4 linked regions of the Homo sapiens genome follow. The protein of the gene in region 3 interacts with the protein of the main gene of each other region in a pairwise test. Each region holds a gene or a part of one and is shown on either strand. Other genes may lie near its edges.

Evidence for each region.
Region 1: the proteins of AEN (region 3) and SSX2IP interact in binary tests that used the Homo sapiens proteins (3 or more experiments, as listed by UniProt).
Region 2: the proteins of AEN (region 3) and HAP1 interact in binary tests that used the Homo sapiens proteins (3 or more experiments, as listed by UniProt).
Region 4: the proteins of AEN (region 3) and RALYL interact in binary tests that used the Homo sapiens proteins (3 or more experiments, as listed by UniProt).

Annotation. Positions count from the first base shown.
Region 1 is NC_000001.11:84,652,444-84,659,497, forward strand, and holds part of SSX2IP (afadin- and alpha-actinin-binding protein), read right to left. Parts: intron 6,026-7,054; coding exon 5,875-6,025; intron 4,042-5,874; coding exon 3,905-4,041; intron 3,563-3,904; coding exon 3,389-3,562; intron 3,146-3,388; coding exon of another isoform or gene 3,022-3,145; intron 1-3,021. UniProt on the Homo sapiens protein: Belongs to an adhesion system, which plays a role in the organization of homotypic, interneuronal and heterotypic cell-cell adherens junctions (AJs).
Region 2 is NC_000017.11:41,722,140-41,724,643, reverse strand, and holds the end of HAP1 (huntingtin-associated protein 1), read left to right. Parts: 3' UTR 1-2,004; downstream 2,005-2,504. UniProt on the Homo sapiens protein: Originally identified as neuronal protein that specifically associates with HTT/huntingtin and the binding is enhanced by an expanded polyglutamine repeat within HTT possibly affecting HAP1 interaction properties.
Region 3 is NC_000015.10:88,617,025-88,624,349, reverse strand, and holds the start of AEN (apoptosis-enhancing nuclease), read right to left. Parts: upstream 3,011-7,325; 5' UTR 2,968-3,010; exon of another isoform or gene 2,687-2,967; intron 1-2,686. UniProt on the Homo sapiens protein: Exonuclease with activity against single- and double-stranded DNA and RNA. Mediates p53-induced apoptosis.
Region 4 is NC_000008.11:84,529,240-84,536,293, forward strand, and holds part of RALYL (RNA-binding Raly-like protein), read left to right. Parts: intron 1-59; coding exon of another isoform or gene 60-82; coding exon 83-338; intron 339-7,054.

The sequences.
Region 1 (7,054 bases), on a different chromosome or scaffold from region 3:
AAAAAAAGCCGGGCGCAGTGGCTCATGCCTGTAATCCCAGCACTTTGGGAGGACAAGGTGGGCGGATCACAAGGTCAGGAGTTTGAGACCAGTCTGGCCAACATGGTGAAACCCCATCTCTACTAAAAATACAAAATTTAGCCGGGCATGGTGGCGTGCGCCTGTAGTCCCAGCTACTCAGGAGGCTGAGGCAGGAGAATCACATGAACCCAGGAGGCAGGGGTTGCAGTGAGCTGAGATCGCACCCCTGCACTCCTGCCTGGGCAACAAAGCAAGGCTCCATCTCAAAAAGCAAAACACGGCCGGGCACGGTGGCTCACGCCTGTAATCCCAGCACTTCGGGAGGCCAAGGCGGGTGGATCACGAGGTCAGGAGATCGAGACCATCCTGGCTAACATGGTGAAACCCCGTCTCTACTAAAAATACAAAACAAAAAAAATTAGCCGGGTGTGGTGGCGGGTGCCTGTAGTCCCAGCTACTCAGGAGGCTGAGGCAGGAGAATGGCATGAACCCAGGAGGCAGAGCCTGCAGTGAGCCAAGATCACGCCACTGCACTCTAGCCTGGGCAACAGAGTGAGACTCCATCTCAAAAAAAAACAAAAACAAAAAAACTAAGAAAAATTTCACTTACGAAAAAATTATGTTTAAAAAATAGAAATTCATCTGTTTCACCTAATAAACCAACCATCACTGTCTTCATATCAATTTTAAGTTCAAATAAACAATGCAAAAAATGGAACAGAATATTAGCATAACTTTTGAACATACAAAACATTATAAAGTTACAAACAAAAGAAAAATAATCTATATTGTAAATTAGTCACTTGAAAAACAGGACCTATGACTTCATCAAGCATTTCTCTCATCCTCTAGCCATCTACCAGTACTGGTAGCCACCACCACTAAACCACAAGAGGGCATAGGCAAATTATGTCAAACCTCCCCCTTCTGAATAGCTGATGAATCCTAAACTAAATTCTCCATCAGCCCTCAGGTCTTGCATGCCTCCCTCCCATCCCTCACTATGCCCACTGTCCCAGTGACCAGACGGAGAAAAATTCTCTTGCAGGGAAAGGCACCTGGCAACTGGGAGCAATATGCAAAGTAGCAAGAGTAATTACTCTCTTGGAGTAATGTGGGGAATAAGGGCTTGGAAACAGGTAGGAGACAATGCTGGTCAAGTGTTGTTCCCTGAAGATAGCTACTGATGAAACAGACGTTCACACTGTGAACTGAGGAAATCCACGTCAGCTACTGAAAACAAGCAACACACAGTCTTTCATTCATAAATATTGATACAGAATCACGCATCACCAAACATTGAGAAAACTAATATAGAAAAAAGGTCAAGATAAATAGAAAACTGACCATGGATAAGAGATAATTCAACAGATGAAAGAAATCTTTTTTAAAAATGTAACAAATATTATCAGATTAATAAACATCTGTAAAATACCATCATGCTATATAAAGAAAAGCAAAAATTAAGGACATTAGAAAAATTTAAAGATAAATTCTGAAGCAAAGACTCAGTGGCTAAAGCAAATAATAAAACTGACCCTGAAAGGCCAGTTTCGTGATCTCTAAGATAAAGGTAAGAGAATATCCCAGAATTGAGAACAAAAGTCAACCTGTAGATATATATTCAGAAGGCCAAATGTGTGTCTAACAAAAGTTCCAGAACACAGAGAAGTCAAAGAAGGAAAAAATAAAGAAGAAAATTTCCCTAAATTAAAGAAATACAGAATCTTTAGGATGAAAGGAACTCTCTAGAAGTATCCTGGTAAAATTTCCAAACTTTAAGAAAATACCAAAGCTTCCACAGAGGGAGATAGAAAACAAAACACAGTTATCTACAAAGTAACACAGGTATATTACAATCAGGCTTCTCATCAGTAAAACTAAACACTAGGAGAAATGGAATAATTCAAAGTTTTGAAGGAAAAAAAACTGGAATCTAAATTCTATACACAGCCAAACCAATCAAGTATGAATATATTTTTGACTATTCCAGAATTCAGAATGTTTACAGCTCATGCACTATTTATAAAAAAAAAATTACTCAAGAATTAGTAATTACTCAATTACTAATATAGCGAATTGAACAGAAACCCAAGAAAGACAGTAACATGAGATATGAGCAACATGGCAGCTGAAATCTGATTCAGGAAATCACAAAGGAAGCTACAGAGAAAAAGAATTCACTAGATAGTGATATATCTCTCTGGGTGGCAAAGTCTTAATAATACAGAATATTTTCTGTGTCCAAACATATTTGGTTATAGAATAACATTTACATAATTGTAGTATTATCAATTTTCTTTCCTGGTTTTCCAACTTTTAAGTCTCAAGTTTAGACAAAGTACTTATACCTGGATTGTATTAGAGGACAAACTATGAATGTGATAACAATGAAAAATAATATCACAAAAATTGCAAAGTAGTACAGCAAGAGAGGTAGAACAAGAGTAACAACAAGAAAGTCCTCAGCTTTCACTGCAGGGATGAACTGATACTGACTGAAGTTGAACAAACATGAAATGGAAGCTTTTTATTATTTCCTTAAAGCAAAAAAAAGGCAAGCAGACGAACAAGAGGAACAATATTATGAAGACATGAGATGTGAATGAGGAAGGGTGTAGGTAGGAGGTACAATAAGGACACAGAATTCCTTATCTTTCATAGCAGGGAATCAATGAACTGATAAACAAGAAAACTTGAAATACATTAAAAGTTAAAATAGTACTTCCTAGAAGAATTTCCAACAGATACTTTTTAACAGCAGTTACCTCTAAGGAATGAAACTGAGGATGAGAAAGGAGGATACTTTCTTACTTTGTAGCTTTTTTTAATGAGTTTTGTTGATTTTTTTTTTTTAACCTTATTCAGACATTACTGCTACAATTTTTGAAGGGGGAATATGTAGATGACACATTGCTAAGTAAAAAAAGCAAGCTGTAGAGCGTATATATAACAATGATGGACTGGGGAGAAGAGAACTTAATTTTTTATTATACTTCCTTTTTAAACAGCAAATATAGTCTTGGTTGCACTGTCTTCTGACACCACACCTACTGACCGTGGATGAATGATGGATACCCAAAAGAGATTTCTTGTGTAAAACACTTAGCAGGAGAAAGCCAATCTGAAAGCAGTAATAAATGCTTATAGCGTTTTTTTTTCTTAAGTTCAATTCTCAAATCTGGTAAGGGGAAATGATCCCATTCTATATGCTCAGCCTCCCTCTCATTTCAAATTATTTGTGAGATCACCAGTAAATATTTTAGAAAATAAGTAAATAGCAAGAAAAAAAGGAGACCTTAGAAGCATTCTACTGAGGCCCACCCACCCCCAGTATTTTCAAAAGCACTACAATTGTTTAAAATACCTCCAATCCCAGGCGAATAGCGGCTTCTGTAAAGCTTCGTCTCTCCCTCTCAAAATTCTTTTTCTGCTCTTTAAAAAGGGACCATTCTTCTTTGAGACGTTCCTTTTCTTCCAACAAATAACAGTCTCGTAATAGTGAAGTGGTATCATCATCATATGCAGTAGCGAGCTGCTGCTATTAAAATTTAAAACATAGTAAGTTCCTGAGGGACCTTGCGACACTCCAACGAGTTGAAATGAAAGCAAGGGAAGGCCAGTCAAACTTCAGGGCAGGAATAGAAATTATTAAGAATCAAAAAGTCAAATGAGAATTCTCATTTCCCGAAACCTACTACCCCAACTAGCAAAGTATGGACTATTTAAGGAGTGGTACACAATGTATCTGTTAGCAGGGAACACAGACTAGAAATCTGTCAAATACCAGGGCCTTATGAAATAAAGGAATACAAATCTGGTAAGGTTCAGCACAATTCTGGCTTTTCATGGAGAACAGCTTTAAAAGGTAATTCATATTCACCTGTAAAAGCTGTTGCTGAGTTTTAATCATTTCTTTACACTGCTGAATTTCTAACTCGAGTTTTTCAGTTTCTTGTTCATGGTCTTGTCGTGAGATTACATCTTCATCATTAAAACCTTCCAGGTGTACCTTTGAAACTAAGACAAAATCAGTAAGTTGACATAGGTCTTATAGCCACCACTTAGTTTACAGTGTTTTGCACATATCTTTAAAACAAGGGCTCTCAGAACTTTTATCTTTCTAGAATTTTATAGGTTTTCTAAAAAGTAGTTACGTCCTTTGACTTTTTAAAATTTCATAAGCTATAACAAAATTAAATTTATATTATTTTAACATTATAAAAAATGTTTAAGCAAAGCAACTACAGGAGTTCATGACGACAATTACACATTTGTGCAATTTTAAGACTAAATGATATGCTTACAAACAGAGCTCTATTGCCAACAATTTGTAATCCATATTTATTCATGATTATGTCCTAATTAAAAACAGACAAAATGGCCATATTCAGAGAAGAGAAAAATAAAATCATGTTTTTGTTGACACTGCTTCAAAGATCAATGAAGTGTCACAAATCTTGCTCTCAAATATTAAATTCAACAAATACGAAGTCCAAACATACTTGCTATTTGATAATAAACAGCATTGACTCAAATGAACAAAATCTCATGTAGATTCATTTTGGTGCTGTAATAATAATTTTGCTGATTGCTCTTTACTAATACTTAACACAATGGCACTGAGTTCATATTTTGACAATTTAAATTTTTCTTTAAATAGGCTTCATTTACTGAGCAGAAATCTTCATTTTCCTAGTTTAAAAGCATTCAAACTTTACCAAGCAGAAAATATTAAGAATATATTCATCAATGTAGAGCTATGTATAAGGATAATAGTTAAGTGAAAAAAGCACACTAAAGAAAAATATAGGTAATATTCAATTTTTAAAATTTAAAAAAAAGTAAGTATCTTTCAAATCCATAGAGGAAAGTATAGAAAAATATGCACCAAACTGTTAAGTGTTATATGTATGGAATAGAGACCAGGATATTCTACTTTATATACTTCCAAATTAATATTTTGCATTAAACATCTATTATTTTAAAAATAATTTTAAGTGAATTACTAGGAACATAGTAATCTGCAAGCATCTAGAAATAAGCAAAATGTTCCTATCTATACTACGATAAATATTTCTTGATTTTTGAGAGTCAGTAAAAGAGACTCAGTTTTCTCTTTTTGGGGGGGAACAGGTGGTGTTTGGTTACATGAATAAGATCTTTAGTGGTGATTTCTGAGATTTTGGTGCACCCATCACCCAAGCAGTGTACACTACACCCAATGTGTAGTCTTTTATCCCAACTCAGTTATCTTTATTTGATTGTATACTGCATCCAGAGCAGATGGATCCATGATGTCCTCTTTTCAAACATTCACTCTGAGACCAAAGTGTATTTTTCTCAGTGAGGTTCAAACCTCACATCTAAATGTATGTAAAATGTCGGCTGTGCACAGTGGCTCACACGTGTAATCCAGACACTCTGGGGAGGCCAAGGCAGGTGAATCACTTGAGGCCAGGAGTTCAAGATAAGCCTGGCCAACACAGCAAAACCCCATCTCTACTAAAAACACACCAAAAAATTAGCTGGCTATGATGTGCGCCTATAGTCCTAGCTGCTCAGCAGGCTGAGGCAGGAGAAATAACTTGAACCTGGGAGGCGGAGGTTACAGTGAGCCGAGATGGCACCACTACACTCTAGCCTGGGTGACCGAGCAAGGTTCTGTCTCAAAAAGTAAAATAAAATAAAATAAAATGAAAAAATAAATGTATGCAAAATCTTGCTTTCAAACCACCAAACTGAAGTATAGTACTTTAGCTCTGAGCCTATAATGCGGCTTTCTAAGTGACTAAAAATCAACACCTTACCAAATGTCACAACTCACTTTACATGCATAGAAGCAGTGGTTACCTTGGTTATCAAGCTTTTCTACATGACTTTTCAAAATTCTCCACTGTTTTCTGATGCTGTTTGTAAGCTGCTCTCTCACAGTTTCACAGGAAAGGTCCCACATACTCTCTCTGCTTAGTTCCCCGGCATCTTCTTCAACATCGGAAATAACCTACAAGCGGAGAGAGATGAAGAGGAAAGGCTAGTACCTTACAATGGCTTTAGATGCTCAGGCAAGTAGTCTTCAGTTTGATTACCAGAGGAAGCCACATCAAAATCATTTCTGTGCTGTGTCTTATGCATATATGGCCCAGTATTTAAATGTCTTGAGAAAAAAAATGAGACTCCTAAATTCAGCTCTCTCTAAACCTGAATTTGAATCCAAATACAGTTAATGACAAGAGTCATGAAGCTGTCTGAGAAGGAGATATCACTACCTGTCTAATGTGTTGGATGTTTTCACGTTATTTAACCCTCAGCTCATTACAATGTGGGAAAACCGAGGTTTAGAGAAGCAGCATTACAACTAAGAGGCAGAACTGATATTTGACATTAGATCAACTTGTTTCTAATCCTAGGCTGCTTAAAGAAATGCACTTGTGAAATAATCTCTGAAGTATTTAATAAAAGCAACTGTTAATTCTATTTTCCTCATATACTTTTTTATATAACGGGAGATACTTTTCTTTGTATTCTGCCAAACATGAAATCATAAAGAAGTAGCAAACTTTACTGATATATGATCACACAGAATCAAAGCAGGATAAAGAACATGGGGAAACAATACTAAAAGGGATATATGTCATAATAACCCACATCTACATAAAGTAGTTCTAATTTGTCATTAATATTCAGGAAGGCAGAGAGATATACTTCACTAATTTGAACAATAAAAATCTTGCTGGGGAAAAAAGAAAGATAAAAGATGAAAAGAAAGAAGGGCTGATTCGACTGCTCGCACATGGAGATCAGCAGGATGAGGGAGCAACTGAGTCTGAAGAACTCTATCAGTAGTTGAGGTCAGCAATGGGCTAGCAGAGGTCAGGGTCTCTGAGGCGGAGCAGACAGGGGAATGGCCCAGGATCCGGCTCATGGTGATTCTAGCCCCTGCCAATACTCAAAAGCTACTTGCCAGTAACTCTTCCAAGGAAGCACAGCTTCTCTTCTGAACATTTTAAAGCCTATTAGAATACTACCAATC
Region 2 (2,504 bases), on a different chromosome or scaffold from region 3:
CTGTGCTTATTTGCATGGACTTTGCATATCATTTGCATAGACACCTCTGATCCCCTTCAGTGGGAACCGTAGTGTCAGTGCTCATTTATGTGGCATTTGCTTAGGATTCCAGATCTCCATCCACTTTTCTCCTGGGGGCTGGGCTGGGGGTTAGGGCTGGGACTGTGCCCCCACACTGCGCCTCAGCTTCCCATCTCTGCCCGCTTGCTTCCCCTGCCCCCAACCCCTGCCTCCTCTATCCCCCAGGCTCTCCAACTCTGCAGCAGTGGCAGCAGCAGTCAAAACAAACACGGGGGGCGGTGGGTGGGATGGTGGAGCAGCCCGGGGGCTGACCCAGGCTGGAGGACAGGGCCAGCCACCCTCCCACGGCCTGGGAGGAAGAGAGGCCTTCTGGGACTGCCCAGGCTATGGGGACAAAGGCCTTCACCAGCAAGGGCCACAGTTGGAACAGTCCCCTGGGTGTCAGAAGGTGGGCTAGGGCCTCCTGCAGGGTTGTGGGGTGGAACAGGGTCTCCTCTCCCCAGCCAGAAACCCCAAAGTCTGGGAGCTGCACCTTCCGAGTGCAGGCCATGTGAGCCCTGCCTCTTTAAGGAGCCGCAGGACATGAAAGATGACCTTGTGACACTCATGCACAGCAGCCATTGCACGTGCATCAGCTCCCATCAGCCTCATTCCGTGGCAGGTGATGTGTCCCCATTGGTTAGGTGAGGAGGGTGAGGCTCAGAGAGCTAAGGACACTTGTTTGGGGCCACACAGCCGGGGTAGATCTGAGCCCGTCCTCTCTACTCCTGTGCTGTAGCACCTTCACTGGCCCATCCCTCCCCTCTAGTGCTGTCCTGGTACCCGTCCCAGCCTGTCCCCATTCTCATGGCCCTTTGGTCACTGCCGGGTGGAATAGCACTGGCTTCAGCAGGCGTGTCATGTAAGCTTGTGCAGGTTATAAACTGAACCATGACCTTTATGGCGCATGCAGGGGGCAACCTGCATAATTATCAATGGCGACTTTCCGTGTCCTTCTGATACAGTTGATCAGACCCCTGCCCACCGCCCAGGCCAGGCCTGTGGTCATCAATGCCCCAGTTCACATCCACCTGCTTCTCTTCCAGGCTTTGCTGTTCCCCAGCAGCCTGCAGAGGCCCCACAGACAGCTTGAGGCCCCTCCTTCTGCTGCCTGGCCAAGCCCCACACCCGCAGACCCTCCTTCCCATCCTCTGAAATGGGACCCTGTGTCTGTCACCAGCCCACCCTCTGTGTTCATGAACCTGGGCTGGAGCTTGGGGACCCCTCCCTGCCCCTGGCTTCCTCTTCCATGTTCTGCCCTTTCCCACATGTTGGAGGCTTTTCCAACGTCTTCAGGGACAGGCGGTAGGAACCCCGGCCCTCGCTCTGCAGCTGGTGCAAAAGCTGTGGCTGCCAGGTCTGGGCCACATGGCAGCCCAGGGGGCAGGAGAAGCCCGGGAGAGGCCCACTGGCTACCAGACTCAGCCCTGAGCAGGGAACAGGGCCCAGCTTCCACCGGCAGGGAGTTGTGAGCGCCTTCCCAACAATGTGCCCCTCACCCCTTGATGCCCATGCTAATGGTAGCCACCCTGGTTCTTGTTGACTTGAGGGACCTGGCTGTCTTCCCTGTTCTTCATCCTTTCTTCTCAGTCCCTACCTACTGTTTGTAACCACAAGTGTCTCTGTGTGTGGGTGGGTGAGGGCCCCTCTGCCCAGTGGTGTGTCTCCTCTCCCTCCCTCCCTCTTCTGCCAGTGGCCTGGGGGTGTCCAGGCTCCCATCCGTGGCCCAGCCCCTCTCCCCTCTGTCTTGATCCCCCCCTCCCTGCCCCTGGCTTCCTCTTCCATGTTCTGCCCTTTCCCACACCTTTGTTCCTCAATAGCTGGGGGCTGGGACTGAGGCCTCCTGCAGGTACCTGCCCCCCTTCACACAGCACCTCTCAATCTCCTATTGCTTGTCAGCCTGTGTGCGTGTGGTGCAGGAAATAAAGGATCTATACCCTCCTGGCCCAGCCTCCAGCTGTCTCTCTAGGGAGTGTGTGTGTGCACTTGGCAGGGCGAAGTTGTAGAGAAAGGGTGGATGCTAATATTGAAGTATGTGCCGAGGACTCCTATTAAATACGCCGTTTAATCATAGCAGCAGCTCCTAGAGGGCGGTGGGTGATGTCATAAGTGTCTGTTGGATGGAGAAACTCAGGCCAGAGTAGGTTAAGTGATGCCCTCACCAGCAGATCATGGCTAGTGTGGAGCTGGGATTTGAGCTCATGCTTCCCTGATCCTTTCACCCCAGAGACTGACTCAGTGGCCTGGCTGTGAAAGATAGGATGGGAGAGAGTCACCCACTGTCTTAGGGTGAAGTCCCCAGAGCAGACCTGGAACAGGGTTTAGGAACAAGTATAGTCGCCCTCCGTATCCTCAGGCTCTGCATCCGTGGAGTCAACTAACCACAGATAGAAAATATTTGGGGGAGGCTGGGTGCAGTGGCTCATGCCTGTAATCCTAGCACT
Region 3 (7,325 bases):
GCCACAGCCTCCCTTCCCACTCACAGCCCTCCTGCTCTTTCAGACTCAGCTACTGTTCCGCCACCACCCAGAAGCCCTTCTGGAAGAAACTCTGTCCCACTGGGTTGCACAGGCCAATGCCATACTGAGGCTCTCTCGGGTCTCCACTGTGCCAGATGCTGGGCGGCTGCACAGGTGGATCCTGGACTCCAAGAAGTTTAGTTTCATGGTGGAGACAGAAACCAAGCATAAAGTGTGTTAAGGGCTGAAGCAGAGGTGCTAGGGAGGCAAAACAGGCTGGAGGACAATTCTCTGGAGGCTTCCTGGAAGAGGCTACATCTGTGTGCATGTACAACAGTAACCTTCCAGGTAGAAGGGAGAAGAATCAGTGGCCATGTTAGGGGCAAAGGCCTTAAAAAGGACTAACCCAGGGTGGAGGAAGAGGGCCCACCAGCAGCCTCAAGTCACTGGGGTGTAGAGCATAAGGCGGGTCATGCTGGAGGCACTGCTCCTCGCTCCTCTCTCCTTTGCACCATTTCATCTTCTGTTTCCTACTCTGGTGGCCCTTCCACAAGCCACCCCTACCGCAATCTGGTGTCCCCTGAATTGGTCTCTACTGGCCAAGTGAGTGGGGGAGCCCCAGAGGCACCTATGGAGGTCACTGAAATATCCCACAGTAGCCCTGACTCAGGACACTAAGTCTAGCTGGGGAGCAAAGAAATTCATCCCTCTGTGCTGAGCTCTTATAGCACAATTTGAGAATTATTACACCCTTCAAAGTCCATTGGTACACACAGTCTACCTCAGAGCTGTAAGAAGGCAGGTTAGAGCCTTGATTGTACCTTCCCCAACAGCCAGCCTAGAAGCTAGCATGTGGCAGGTCCTCTTCAGAAGGGTGTAGAAAGAGGTCTGGAGAAGATGAAAACCTGAGCAGTAGCAGCAGAGATTAAGAGAAATGGGAAGGGGATGGGAGGTGAGGTGAAATGCCAGGTTTGATGATGCCAGCATTTGCATAAAGAATCCCCACACTCTAGGGCAGGGCACCGCATCCTGACTTGACTCATCCAGACCTGACCCATCCTGACTCATCCACCCTGCTTGCTCATCCCATCCTTTCCAGGAGAAAAGGTCTCTCTTTTAAAAAGGTCTTAACTGTAACCAACTTCCTCATATTGACAGTCACATCTTAGAACTGACAAATTCAGAACCTTAATCTGCCTCAGCCCAGCAATGGGAGAAAAAAGCCTAAGAAGCCCAATGCCCACCCTGCTAATAACTAATTTGGGAAAGGGGGCTGGCGGATAGTCCCCTCCTTTCTCTGTGAGGGGCTGAGGCTAGGAGTAGGGTGGGTGGCTTTCCTGATCCTACTGGCAAGGTTTTAAAGAAGCCAGAAATTAAGTTATCTGAGAAAAGGTCTCTGTAGCCTCCTATTTCAAGAGAGGAAAGTAGTCCTTTTCCAAACACCCTGACCTTGCTTAAGAGAAGAGAGAAAGAGACCTCCCCCTCATATTGTTCTGTATTATTTTATACTCAGTACCTGTTTTAAGAAGAAACAAGGAAGCAAAACCAAAGGCAGGCAGCCCGGCGCCACGCACCAGACCCAAAACCAGACCCAAAACCAGGCCTGGGCCTGCCTGACCTTAGCCTGATAGTTAAAATTAAACCCATGACCTAGCAACCGATGTTATCCATAGATTTCAGACATTGTATAGAAGGACACTGTGAAATCTCTTGTTCTGTTCTGTTCTGTTTCACTCTGACTACCGGTGCATGCAGTCCCTGTCACATACCCCCTAGATTGCTCAATCAATCATGGCCCTTTCTTGTAAAATCTTTAGTGTTGTGAGTCCTTAAAAGGGACAGAAACTGTGCACTCAACAAGCTCGGATTTTGAGATGCTAGTCTGCCGATGCTTCCAGCTGATTAAAAGCCAATTCCTTCACTACCTCTGTGGGGTTTTGTCCGCGGCTCCTCCTGCTACATGCTGACACGTCAAAACCAACAGTCATCAAGGACACACCTCTTTGGGGACCCAAATGTAGCTCAGTGAAGCTGGAGAGAAGTTCCGCTCAGATAAAACAACCCTTTCAACAAGGACAAACACAAGCCTTTCTCTAGCCTGGACCCAGCGCTCTGGGGGTCAGACACCCGGCCTTCAGGCAGGGAGGGGGTCTGGCCTAAAGAAAGGGTCCCAGCTGCAGAGTCAATGGAGCAAAGGCCCCAAAGGAACCAAGAAGTCAGAATCCTCGGTGGCATGAGAGCCACCAACCTGCTGGCTGATCAAGAGGGCAGAGGGCAGTTCTAGACCCTCCTCTGGCACTAAGTAGCTAGATGATCTGGGGCAAGTCACGTCTCTTCACCATCAACCGAGGGCTGTGAATTAGATAAGGGCTTCCCAAATGTAGTTAATTACCATATGACATCTGATGAAAGGCTGATTTTCAGGCCCACTCCCACACCGTCCTAATTGCTATTTTGGGGAAAGGGGCCTGAGAATCTAGATTTTTAAAAAGAGCGCGGACGACCCCTACCCTCAAGCCACAATTCTGATAATCGCCCAAACCTGAAAAAACCTGGCTCGATAAGGTCCCCTGTGCTGCTAAAAAGTCCACGGAACAACGACAACAACTAAAGTCTGCTATCCTGGCACGACCTCCCCGCCGGCTGGCGTTCTCCCAGGCGTGACGCGTGGGAGGCCTGATCTCACCGGGAAGGACTCGGGCGTTGGTCACTTGCTGGCCGCGGCAGCTGGGCCGAGTCCCAACGACCAGCGCCGCCCCCTCTGGCCCTGGACCCCCGAGCAGAGCGAGGGCTGGAGACAGGCGGCGCCCGGCCTGCTTTTCTGCGGGCCGGTAGGGCAGGGTCAGCCCAGTTCAGGCGTCCCCGCCGCAGGCCGGGGCGGAAACAACGCGCGGGGACCTGCGACCCGGGACACGCGGCCTCAGCCCGCCCGACCCCGCCGCCCCGGTGCAGGGTCCTGGATCTCACCTGAAGCCCCGCGTGTCTCTTCCGGTCTGCACGTGGCGTCCGGAAAGCCGGCAGCTCCCACATGCCCGGGCAAGCCCGGCTCCGACTGCCCGCCTATTGGCTCGCTGGACGGCAGCGCCCGCCCAAGACCTCTTCTGATTGGTCGAGCCTGCCTGGCAGCGGGGAGGCGGGCGAGAGCAGAAGGGGAGGGACTCCTGAAGAGGGCGTAACTCGTGCTGCGAGCCGGCCATACTGGCGGGAAATTTTAAAGAGAAGGGAAGGGAGACTGACCTCCTGTCGTCCCTGCCCGGTCCCATCAGTGTTCCCCGGCTCCAATCCACTCCTCTACCTGGGTCGGGATGTGGGCTCCTGTAAGCCTGGTACCACCAAAGGCCGAATGACTTACTGAGTACACCCACATCTGCAGATTGGGAACATCGGCCCTTACCTCCTCGGGTGTTCTGGGATTCAAGGAAATAATATACACAGTAGGCACTAAAGAGAGACTTTGAAAGTCAGGTTTCCTCCGTCAGCGCTGCTTTTTCATTTATTCTTTTGCAACACTTGACTCCTAAGTATTAAGTTCCTACGTGGGCTTGGCAGTGGGATGCACACAATAAACACATAAGCATCCTGAGTTGTTTATCTAACAGCAGGGAAACAGCAAGGTTAACAGAAAATTCAGTGCAACATGAGGCCGGGGCGCGGTGGCTCACGACTGTAATCCCAGCACTTTGGGAGGCCGAGGCAGGTGATCACCTGAAGTCAGGAGTTTGAGACCAGCCTGACCAACATGAAACCCCATCTCTCCAAAAATACAAAAATTAGCCGGGCGTTGACGGGAGCCTGTAATCCCAGCTACTCGGGAGGCTGAGGCAGGAGAATCGCTTGAGCCCAGAAGGCGGAGGTTGCAGTGAGCCGAGATCGCGCCATTGCACTCCATCCAGCCTGGGCACCAAGAGCAAAACTCCGTCTCAAAAAAAAAGAAAGAAAGAAAGAAAGAAAATTCAGTGTAACATGAGTAATAACAAGAACAATAATAAACAGTTCACACGTATTATGTGAGCACGAATGATGTGCCAGGCAAAATACTCAGTTAATTTGTACAATGACCTTACTATTATTTCAGTTTTACAGTTAAGGAAATTGACACTTAAATTAAGGAGAAACACCTAGAATCCAAAGATCCTTACCTAAGCAGTCTGACTTCTCTTAGTTCACATTTTGCAAGCAGAAGTGATTTGGAAACGTACCTGTGATGAGAAATAAGCTAGGAGCTCTTTCTGATGGGAGTACAAATTTGAGGGAAGCAGGACAAGGGATGAGGTCACAAGAGAGATCAATCCTTTTACCCAGGCCCCTGAAGGCTTTGGGGAGGCAGAGGGATTTAAGCCATAGATAGTTTACCAGTGAATCTGCATTTGAAAAAACTTGTTCTGGCTGCAGCATAGAGAGGAATGGATGAGGACTGGAGAAAGGAGTGGGGGAGTGTTTGTGGAAATTTGGAAGATCATGATGTCCAGAGTGGTGTGGAGGATAAAGAGCTCCCCACCTAAGTAGCATTTGAAATGACAGATTCAAATGCTACTTAGGAGGCAGCGTTGATCAGAGAGCAGAGGGGAAGGGGTTATAGGACAGCGGTCTTCAGGCATGGGGACTGTGGGAGGTAAATCTGGGGCAAGGAGAGTTTTTTTTGTTTTGTTTGTTTTTGTTTTTGAGATGGAGTCTCACTCTGTCACCCAGGCTGGAATGCAGTGGCACAATCTCGGCTCACTGCAACATGTGCCTCCCGGGTTCAAGTAATTTTCCTGCCTCAGCCTCAGGAACAGCTGGGATTACAGGCACGTGCCACCATGCCCAGCTAATTTTTGTATTTTTAGTAGAGATGGGGTTTCACCATGTTGGTCAGGCTGGTCTCGAACTCCCGACCTCGTGATCCACCCACCTTGGCCTCTCAAAGTGCTGGGATTACAGGCGTGAGCCACCACACCCAACCAAGGAGAGTTTTAAGAGAGTCAATATCCAGATCCTCTGCTTCCATGGTGCTGGGCCTCAGAATATGCCTGGGGTCTTTGGGGTTCAGCTTCCCTCTCCTCATGTGTAACCAGCTGTCTCCCACTTTTCAAAGGCAATTCACACTGCACCTGTTCTAAATCTTGCTCTGCTGCATTACCTTGGGAAATAAAAGTCTCCAGGAGAAACAATAGGGCAATTCTAAATAATGTATTAATTATTGTTGAGGACGGGGCAAGAAATCCTTCTACAAGTCAGGTGGTTTCTCATTCTTTGCTTTCACCAAGATCCAAGGAGGATCTAATCATGTTGTTAGGTCATTAAAAACATTTTCTTGAGACCAAGGCTGGAGGACTGCTTGAGGCCAGGAGTTTGAGACCAGCATGGGCAACATAGCAAGATCCTGTCTTCACAAAAATAAATAAATGTGGAGGTGTGTGCCTACAGTCCCAACTACTGGGGAGGCTGAAGTGGGAGGATCCCTTGAGTCCAGGAGTTAGAGGTTACAGTGAGCTATGATTGAGCCACTGCACTCCAGCCTGGGTGACAGAGCCAGACAGACCCTGTCTCCAGTAAACAAATAAATGAATAAATAAATAAATACATGAGTATAGATAATTATCAGGAATTTAAAAGAAGTGGGAGAATTGCCAGACTAAAACCCTTCCCATTTCTCTATGGTTTTAATGTAAACAATGTTTATCAGGCTTACAACTATAAAATCAAAACAACAGACTCACCTCTGTCTCATTCTTACAAAAAGTGATACTCATCTCTGGACTCACAAATTTATGGAAAAATAACTGGCTCAATCCATCTCCTTCAAAGATATATTTTCCATGACATTTTAATGAAGATTAATTAACTTGTATGTTTAAAGATTCTCTCATATAATGAAATGCTATGCATGTATTTTAATCATATGTACTACTAATAATTACAACAACATTTCAATCTAGAAGGAAAAAAAATTAACCCTTAGAACCTCATGGTCACAGAAAATTTTTTAGAGTTAACAAGTTCAAATTTATCTGCATAATTGTGTGACAGAAATGTACAATAGGGTGCTTCATAAAATATTACCAAGCATGAAAATATATTATGCTTGGATAAAACTCCGTAGCAGAAGCTGAAGAAGAAAAAAAGAATGTTGCATATTATGTCAAATAAAAAAACAGACCCAGATTTGATAAAGAGAGATTTTATTTAAAAGGATGATTTTGGGGTGGGGTGAGGGTGGTAAGACTCTGTAAACAGGGAGAACACTCAGGCCATAAATCTACAAACTCTCAAGGGGTAGGCAAAAAGGGATTTTCTTTTATAGGAAGGAGTAAACCAGTCTAGAAAGAACCTGGTGTAGGTAAGTGGGATGAACGAGAGTGACAGGGTGGGGCAGTAGATCAGAGATTGCTTTATCCTGAGGCCAGCCTGTTCTCAAGGGGGCTGTTACAGAGGGATTTCATGCTGGTTTAGGCTGAGGGTGGGCCAAAATTCAGAGGCCTTGGGGAAGGACAAAAGCTTAACCAAAGTTTCATTAATGAGCATTTTTTTCCAGCTGATCAATGGGCCAAGCATTTCAGCTAGTCACTTATGAGGCAAATGGGAATTGGGGCTATCTGTATCCGGTCTAGTAACAGGGTATAGTGGGGAATCGCCATAGAGGGGAATCCATGAGTTTTATCTCAGTCATTGCAGTGAGCCATTTCCAGAACCCGAGAGACGGGGTTGAGGTGGGGTTAGGGGGTAAGGGGTTAATCATTGCTGTTCTCTAGGAGCACAGTGCTTAGGTAAAACTCAACATTGTCATAAATAGTTTTTTCATGTACTTTAAAAATGAAGGCCGGGCGCTGTGGCTCACGCCTGTAATTCCAACACTTTGGGAGGCCAAGGCGGGTGAATCACCTGAGGTCTCAAGTTTGAGACCAGCCTGGCCAACATGGTGAAATCCTGTCTCTACTAAAACACAAAAATTACCTAGGTATGGTCGTGGGCACCTATAATCCCAGCTACTCAGGAGGCTGAGGCATGAGAATCTCCTGCACCCCGGAGATAGAGGTTGCAGCGAGCCAAGATTGCACCACTGCCCTCCAGCCTGGGCAACAGTGCAAGACTCTGTCTCAATAAATAAATAAAGAAGCTAGGCAAGGTGGCACATGCCTGTAGTCCCAGCTACTTTGGAGGCTGAGGTGGGAGGATCACTTGAGAAGGGCAGGAGTTTGAGACCACAGTGCACTATGATTGTGTTACCCTCCAGCCTGGGCAACATAGTGAGACCCCACCTCTACAAAAAATAAATAAATGAAAATGAATAATATTTGTATCAAATCATTATGATATTTAGACTCCATTGCGTTCATTTAATGACG
Region 4 (7,054 bases), on a different chromosome or scaffold from region 3:
TTCGATCTAATGATTTACCTTTTGATTATTTGTTTTGTTTGTTTGTTTGTTTGTTTAAGGATTAAAGCAAGGAGAGCCAATCATGACTGGCAAAACACAGACCAGCAACGTCACCAATAAGAATGACCCCAAGTCCATCAACTCCCGTGTTTTCATCGGCAATCTAAATACGGCAATTGTCAAGAAAGTTGACATTGAAGCCATTTTTTCAAAGTATGGAAAAATAGTTGGATGTTCCGTTCACAAAGGTTATGCATTTGTACAGTACATGAGTGAGCGACATGCAAGAGCTGCAGTGGCTGGAGAAAATGCCAGAGTCATCGCCGGCCAACCACTTGGTAAGTCATGCTCAGACATGGATCTCACGTTATTGTTCATATATCTGGAAATTGTTTTATTTCACAAAACCCAACACCACTGTTGTTTCTACCTCTTCTTTAACCAATTAGAGTGATTTTATATTTATTATTTATATTTTTTCATCCTCATATTGTTTTGTATATAGGTATCTTATTTTCTGTACAAATTTATAAATTTGAGATCAAGGCTACTTTGCAATACTTATTACCTCCACCCATCCTAACACAGCCAGGCAAATAATAAATATGCATCAGGTTTAACTTTATTTGACTTGAGATAGCATCTGTCTTCCAGGAAACACTATCCTATGCAAAAAATAACTTCACTTGTCATACTTATAGCATTTGATCTGAGCCTAATGCATTTTCCTCATTTCCTATGTTTTGGAGGAGAAGGGGTAGAAAATAGCGAAAGAAAGTAAATTTTTAGAATGGGGAAAGGAATATAATTCACATTTTAAAAATCTAGTTAAGGATTTTGTGTATTATACCTGTATAATCATGCATAATAATCAGATTTCTGTCTAATGTTCAAGAAATAATATAGTTTTTTTCAAAGAAAGGAAAACAATGCAGTCTGAAATAAAAAGACTTGGAAAAATATTTTATAATTAATGTGTAGATAAAAATCAAAATTAGATAATTATTTAGATGTTTTTCTACCTTAGGAAAAAAATATGGTTAATATATTAATGATTCCTCAATTTATGTTTCTTGTTCTGTCTAGATTAATATATCAAACTCATTGTACAGCATCTTCTCATGGATACTCAAAAGGCATTTCAGCTTCATATGCCCAGAACAAAACCCATGATTTTCCATACCCTCAACCTTCTCCACTCCCAAATTTCCTCATCACAATAAAGGGAACCCCCAATTTATCCAGTTTAAAAAAAAAAAAAAACTTTGATTCTTAACTTCCCCCATCATCAAGTTCGCTTGTCAATATATTACAAATATAGTCCAAACCCAATCTCCTTTTAAATGTGTGCTGAAGGCCATCTCATACAGCCCATGGTTGTATCTCAGGGGCACTGAAATAACTCCCTAGTTGGTCCGCTTCTTTTTACTCTTGCCAGAGTGTCTTTTAAAAACATTGATCAGATTATGTTCTTAACCTGCTTTTAAACCTCTAATGCCTTTCTCATACAGAATAAGATTCACATTCTATACCATACCTACAATGCCCTATACTGCCACATCTTCAATTCTATCTCCTTATTCTCTCTCCCTTCTTGAACCACTCTAGTAATGCTGGCTGCCTTGATAATGCCTCAAGCATTCCAAGATTGTTCCTACTTCAGAGGCTTTGTATTTGCTATTCCCTCTGCTCAGACAACAGGTCTTTGCTAATTATTTGCTCCTTTCTTTAGAGTGTGCTGTGCTAAAAATTTACCTCCAGTGAGAGGCCTTTACTGACCAGCCTATCTAAAATAGAATAGTCATCTTCCTCCTTCTTTCACTGTCTATTCTATTACTGTGTGTTAATTTTTTTCATAGCACCTATCAGAATCTGGATTACATAGTTCAATTTATAATCTTACCTGTGTCATGACCACAAATATAAAGATGAAGAAGCATACAAAAGAAGCAAGTTAAAAGTATAGAGAAATCAAGCTAGGAGAGTGTTAAGAATATTGTGAATATTATCAAATGATATAACACAATTAAAACTATTTGGGAAGGTATGAATTCATTAAAATGTAGGAGAAGTCAGAGGGAATAGTCTTGAGGGAAAAAAGCAAAAGATGTTTTGGGTAAGTGCCTGATATTTAACTGCAAACAAATCACTATCAGATAGGAATATAGTTTTTATTTACATTGGTCCCATCGAACTTTCTATATTTTAAAGAAAGGAAAGAAAGGAAGTGCTTTCCAACAGACATTGGTATATTTTCCACTTGTCTTTTTGTTTTCCTTAATGTCTCCATTCTGCTTGCTTACTTTGATATGGGAATTTTCTGACATTTGTGTTTTCCTTTTTAAGTTGAAAGTCTTAATTCAGGGCCATATCCCAGCAGATTTCAGGGCAAGCTCTATTTACTGTCTGTATCCTGATTGTTATGAAACTAACAAATACTTGAGGAAATGCATTTAATTATTTTTGTTGTTTGAAAAATTAATTATCAGTTTAAGATCAATTAAAAGCCTGATTCACTTTTTAATGAGCTACAGCTAATTTTCTGGAGTTCTGTTTCCTATCACTACTCAGTTGATTGCTGTCTTTTTGAGAAGAATGCAATGGGCAAAGATAAATACCACACTAAAAATGTAGTGCCTTACATGCACAAACCCAAGGAAAAAAATGATGACACCAAATTGCTTTGCTTTGAGAGGCACAAAGTTAAATTGTACCTCTTCTAAGATACCATTTCTCATTCTCAGTCATTCCTCTTAGATCCTCTCTTAGTTTTGTCCTCAGGTAAATCTTTAGAGCATATATCCTAATCATCTATAATCACACTTTGTGCCTGAAACCAAGTCTTAGACTTTATTTCTTTAGTTCAAATCTCGTCTTTCACTACCTCTGTCCAAGCTGAATGACTTCATACAAAGCAAGTACATTAAAATTTATCTAACAACTTTGCTTTTCAGGTCAAGTGCTTGAATATACCCAGCGGTTTTTTTGTTTGTTTGTTTGTTTTTTACTATGTTGCTAGAAACTCAGGCAAAGACATGACTTCCAATTGTTCCCTATAGAAGTTAGTTCATCCATCAGGTCCCGAAGAAGACCCTCAGTTTGTAGGATGTATATACATTTCTAGCTTTAAGTATTATACCTTTGTTTTTGATGATTTGAGCAAAACTTAGGTTCAAGTATATTAATCACTTGCTTCTTGAGTTTTTTGATTCCCAAGTAAACTCTTTCTAATCTGCCCTCCAACAAACCCCGGCCAGTTCTTAATATGAAGTGCATTTTTATGGATGAAATAATAGGCTATTATTATATGAAGTTATTATTAGTGTCAGGTACCACGACCTATCTAAGCATTCTCCTTTCTCTTAAGAGTGAGAAGGAAATTAATATTGATTAGATCATGCACTGCATTAGTACTTTACCTTTATTACCTTATTTGATCTCAAATAATGCATATTTGTACATCATTTTCTGAAAAGGAACAATCTTTTATTTACTGCATGTTTAAAATATTTATATATGATTTAGAGATTAAAAATTAAACATCAGTAGTACCAGGAAAAATTAAACACTCTAATGTCAGTTCTTAAAGTTTTATGAAGACTATAGATAACTTGGCCATAATTTAATTTACTTTCTTATACATTTCCAGTTGTTTGGCACGTCTTTCGCACCATGATAGAGGGTATCCATGTTTATTCTTAGCTTCTGTCTTTGATATATAATAGAAGACTGCTAAAACCTCTGTGGAAAAACAAAAAAGATTGCATTTTGACTCATATTACTTAGGGATTCCTAAAATGTCAGAATCTATCTATGAAATTATTCATTATTCAGAATTTTTTTAAATCACAATTCCTATAATGTAAAAATCCTCATAAAACTTTACGTCTATATTTGGTTATTTAATTGATTTTAATACAATTTAAATATAAGCAGGTGAAATTTAACATATCCTCTTAATATTTAATTGAGTTTGAATTCTAAGTTTGTTAATATTGGAAATATTTATTGCATTTTTCAATCTAAGTGTAGTCATTAGAACTTTTTTCCTCAAACACATTATATGCGAGATAAAAACATTTTAAATGCTTAATAGAGACAATTTTTATGAGTAGTCACATACGAAGTGTCCTTTTACACAAAATGTTATGCAGAGGTTAGAGACTAAGACTAGACAGTGCCAATTTTATGTATCTATTGATTACATTGGCTTGATTACAGACATGCTATAAATAAACATTTGCAATGTCTTTCTTTATATTCGGATTATTTTACTGTTACAATGCTTGTAAAAGATACAATTTATGAACTTGAGAAGCCAGCTGTGGATAGTAGGAGGAACCAAACACTGAAAAATAATTTATCTAGAGCAATCATTTTTGTTCTGAAACCCATATGCAGGCCCCTGTCCTTAAGAAGCAAAGTGTGCTTTAGGAAAAGAATATATAAAGCAGAGAATTAAATTAATTGTATCACATTGTAAGTGTCTTGCAAATGCAGAAAGAATTCAAAGTGGGAACATGATGAATAGGGATGGTAAATTTTAAAGTAAATATGGTGAATATACTTAACTAGATCCTGAAGGAAGTAATGGAATTGTCTTAGTAGAGAGGAAGATGTTTGAGAGAGATATAAGAACAAAGAAGAGAACATTCAAATGCTTGTAACAATTCCCGTCAAGCATGTGCTGAGAGCAATGGATTTCAAATGTCTTTTCATCCCCAACTGTTTTGCATCCAGAGTGATCTTTTCAAAATGCAAATCTAATCATGTCACTGTCTTTTAAAACTTTCAGGGATTTCTCATTGTTCTCAGAAAAAAGAATGAAACCTTTGCTGTGGGCTACAAGTTTCTACCTCATTTGTTTCTTTGTCACCTGCAGACTCACATCATAGCCCCATCAGCCTTGCTTAGAGCTACAACTACATTCACTTCTTTCAGTTCTTTGAACAACTTGTGTTCTATCGCCCAACAGGGCCTGTGCACATGCTATCTTGACTGCTCAGAAAGTTCTTCCCTATGAAGCTCTGCACCACCTCACCCTACTTCCCCACTTAATCCCTTTTGCCTGGCTAATCATTCTTCAGATCTCAAATGAAATTTCAGTACTTTAGTGAAACCTACTTGTGTCCCTCAAAGCTAGCTGGAGTGTTTTACTTCACTTTCTAGCAAGTATCTTCTTTTCAATTGTATTTTTATATTTATTATTTTGTAATTGATATCTGTCCCTTCTCCCTCTAAGCTATAAGTTTTTTAGGGCACGGAATATATATGTTTTTACTCATCTTCTTAGCACCTAACAAAATGCTAACACTTCCATGGCAAATGCTCAGTGAGGATGTACTGGATGAATGATTGGATAGATGGTTAGTAGGAGGAATGGATGGACTTGGCTAAAGGGGTCCCTCACATGGAAAAGAGCACCACAGGAAGAAGACAAAGAAGCAGGAGGAGGAGAAATAAGAAGAGAACAGGGAGAAGAAGGAAGGAGAAGTGGCAATTACAAGTTCCCCAGAAAGTGAGGCGATATAGTTGGGGTTGCTGCTAAGCGAAGGCAAAGTGATCATGATCAGCTTGCTAAGGAGACTAGGTATTTAATCTTGAAATTCTTCAACAGACATTCCAAAGGTAACTGTTTCGTAGGCCTGATTTCAGTTTTTTATAAATATAATCCAATCTTTAATAAGCATGAAATATTAACACATATATACTTTATTCAAAAGTTAGAGTGAAGGATATATTGGTTTGAAGAAAGATTTCTATTCATGAAAAACTTCCTACACATTCCTTAAAATGTCATCCTTTCATAGTTTTCTCTTATTAATAGCTGGATATTTGCATGGCACTTCATCATTGTCAAAGTTCTTTCATGCACATATTATCTTCTTTGATTTTCACAACAATGCCAATAAATAATATTAGTATTTACGCCCATTCTGCTGGTTAGGAGCCAAAGCACAGAGAAATGAACTTAGTCTATATCACACAAATGGTGGTGCAAGATTGTTGGCTCACATTTTCTGACCGTAATTATTTTTACTATTTCTCTTTCCAGAAATTTATTCCATTTCAGCAGAGTGATCATCAACTCTGTCATCCAAACAGTAATACTTTTGAGAGTAAAAAGTTACTCTCATTGATTTTGCTTTGTTTGTGGAGCCTGTCCTGTGCATGGTAGGATGTTAGTAGCATCCCTGCCTTTTTTTTTTTTTTTGAGACGGAGTCTCGCTCTGTCGCCCAGGCTGGAGTGCAGTGGCGCTGTCTCGGCTCACTGCAAGCTCCGCCTCCTGGGTTCACGCCATTCTCCTGCCTCAGCCTCCTGAGTAGCTGGAGCTACAGGTGCCTGCCACCACGCCCGGCTAATTATTTTATTTTATTTTATTTTATTTTATTTTATTTTATTTTTTGTATTTTTAGTAGAGATGGGTTTTTCACCGTGTTAGCCAGGACGGTCTTGATCTCCTGGCCTCGTGATCCGCCCACCTCGGCCTCCCAAAGTGCTGGATTACAGGCGTGAGCCACCGCGCCCGGCCGCATCCCTGACTTCTACCTGCAAGATACCTATAGTACCCCTTCCAAATAGTGACAGCCAAAAATTGTCTCCATGTTACCAAATGTCTCCTGGGAGGCAAAATCACTCCAGTTAAGAATTACTGTTGTAGGGTAATCATACCAAAATAAACTCCATTAATTTTCAGAATTGTTCTAATGGTCTTAGGATAAACTATATTAAAACAATGCTTTGAATTATTTTGACAGTAACTCATAATTTATAATAAGAATGTATCTTTTCCAATTGTTCAGGAAATAAAACTCAGTAAGTGCGTTTCAGGGCAATTTTAATGTATTCATGACCATAGCTTACCCACTTATATCACCAGTTTGTTACAAAGCCTTCTGTCTCTTCACATCTTTAATACACTGACTTTTAGAGGTGTGATTTTTCTCCGTTAGATCCCTCCATTCAAACATGTCTAATCGCCACTAGAAATGATGAAGAAAAAGAAAGTATCATGGAAGAGTTAAGTGAAAAATACGGAGTACCAAGATTACT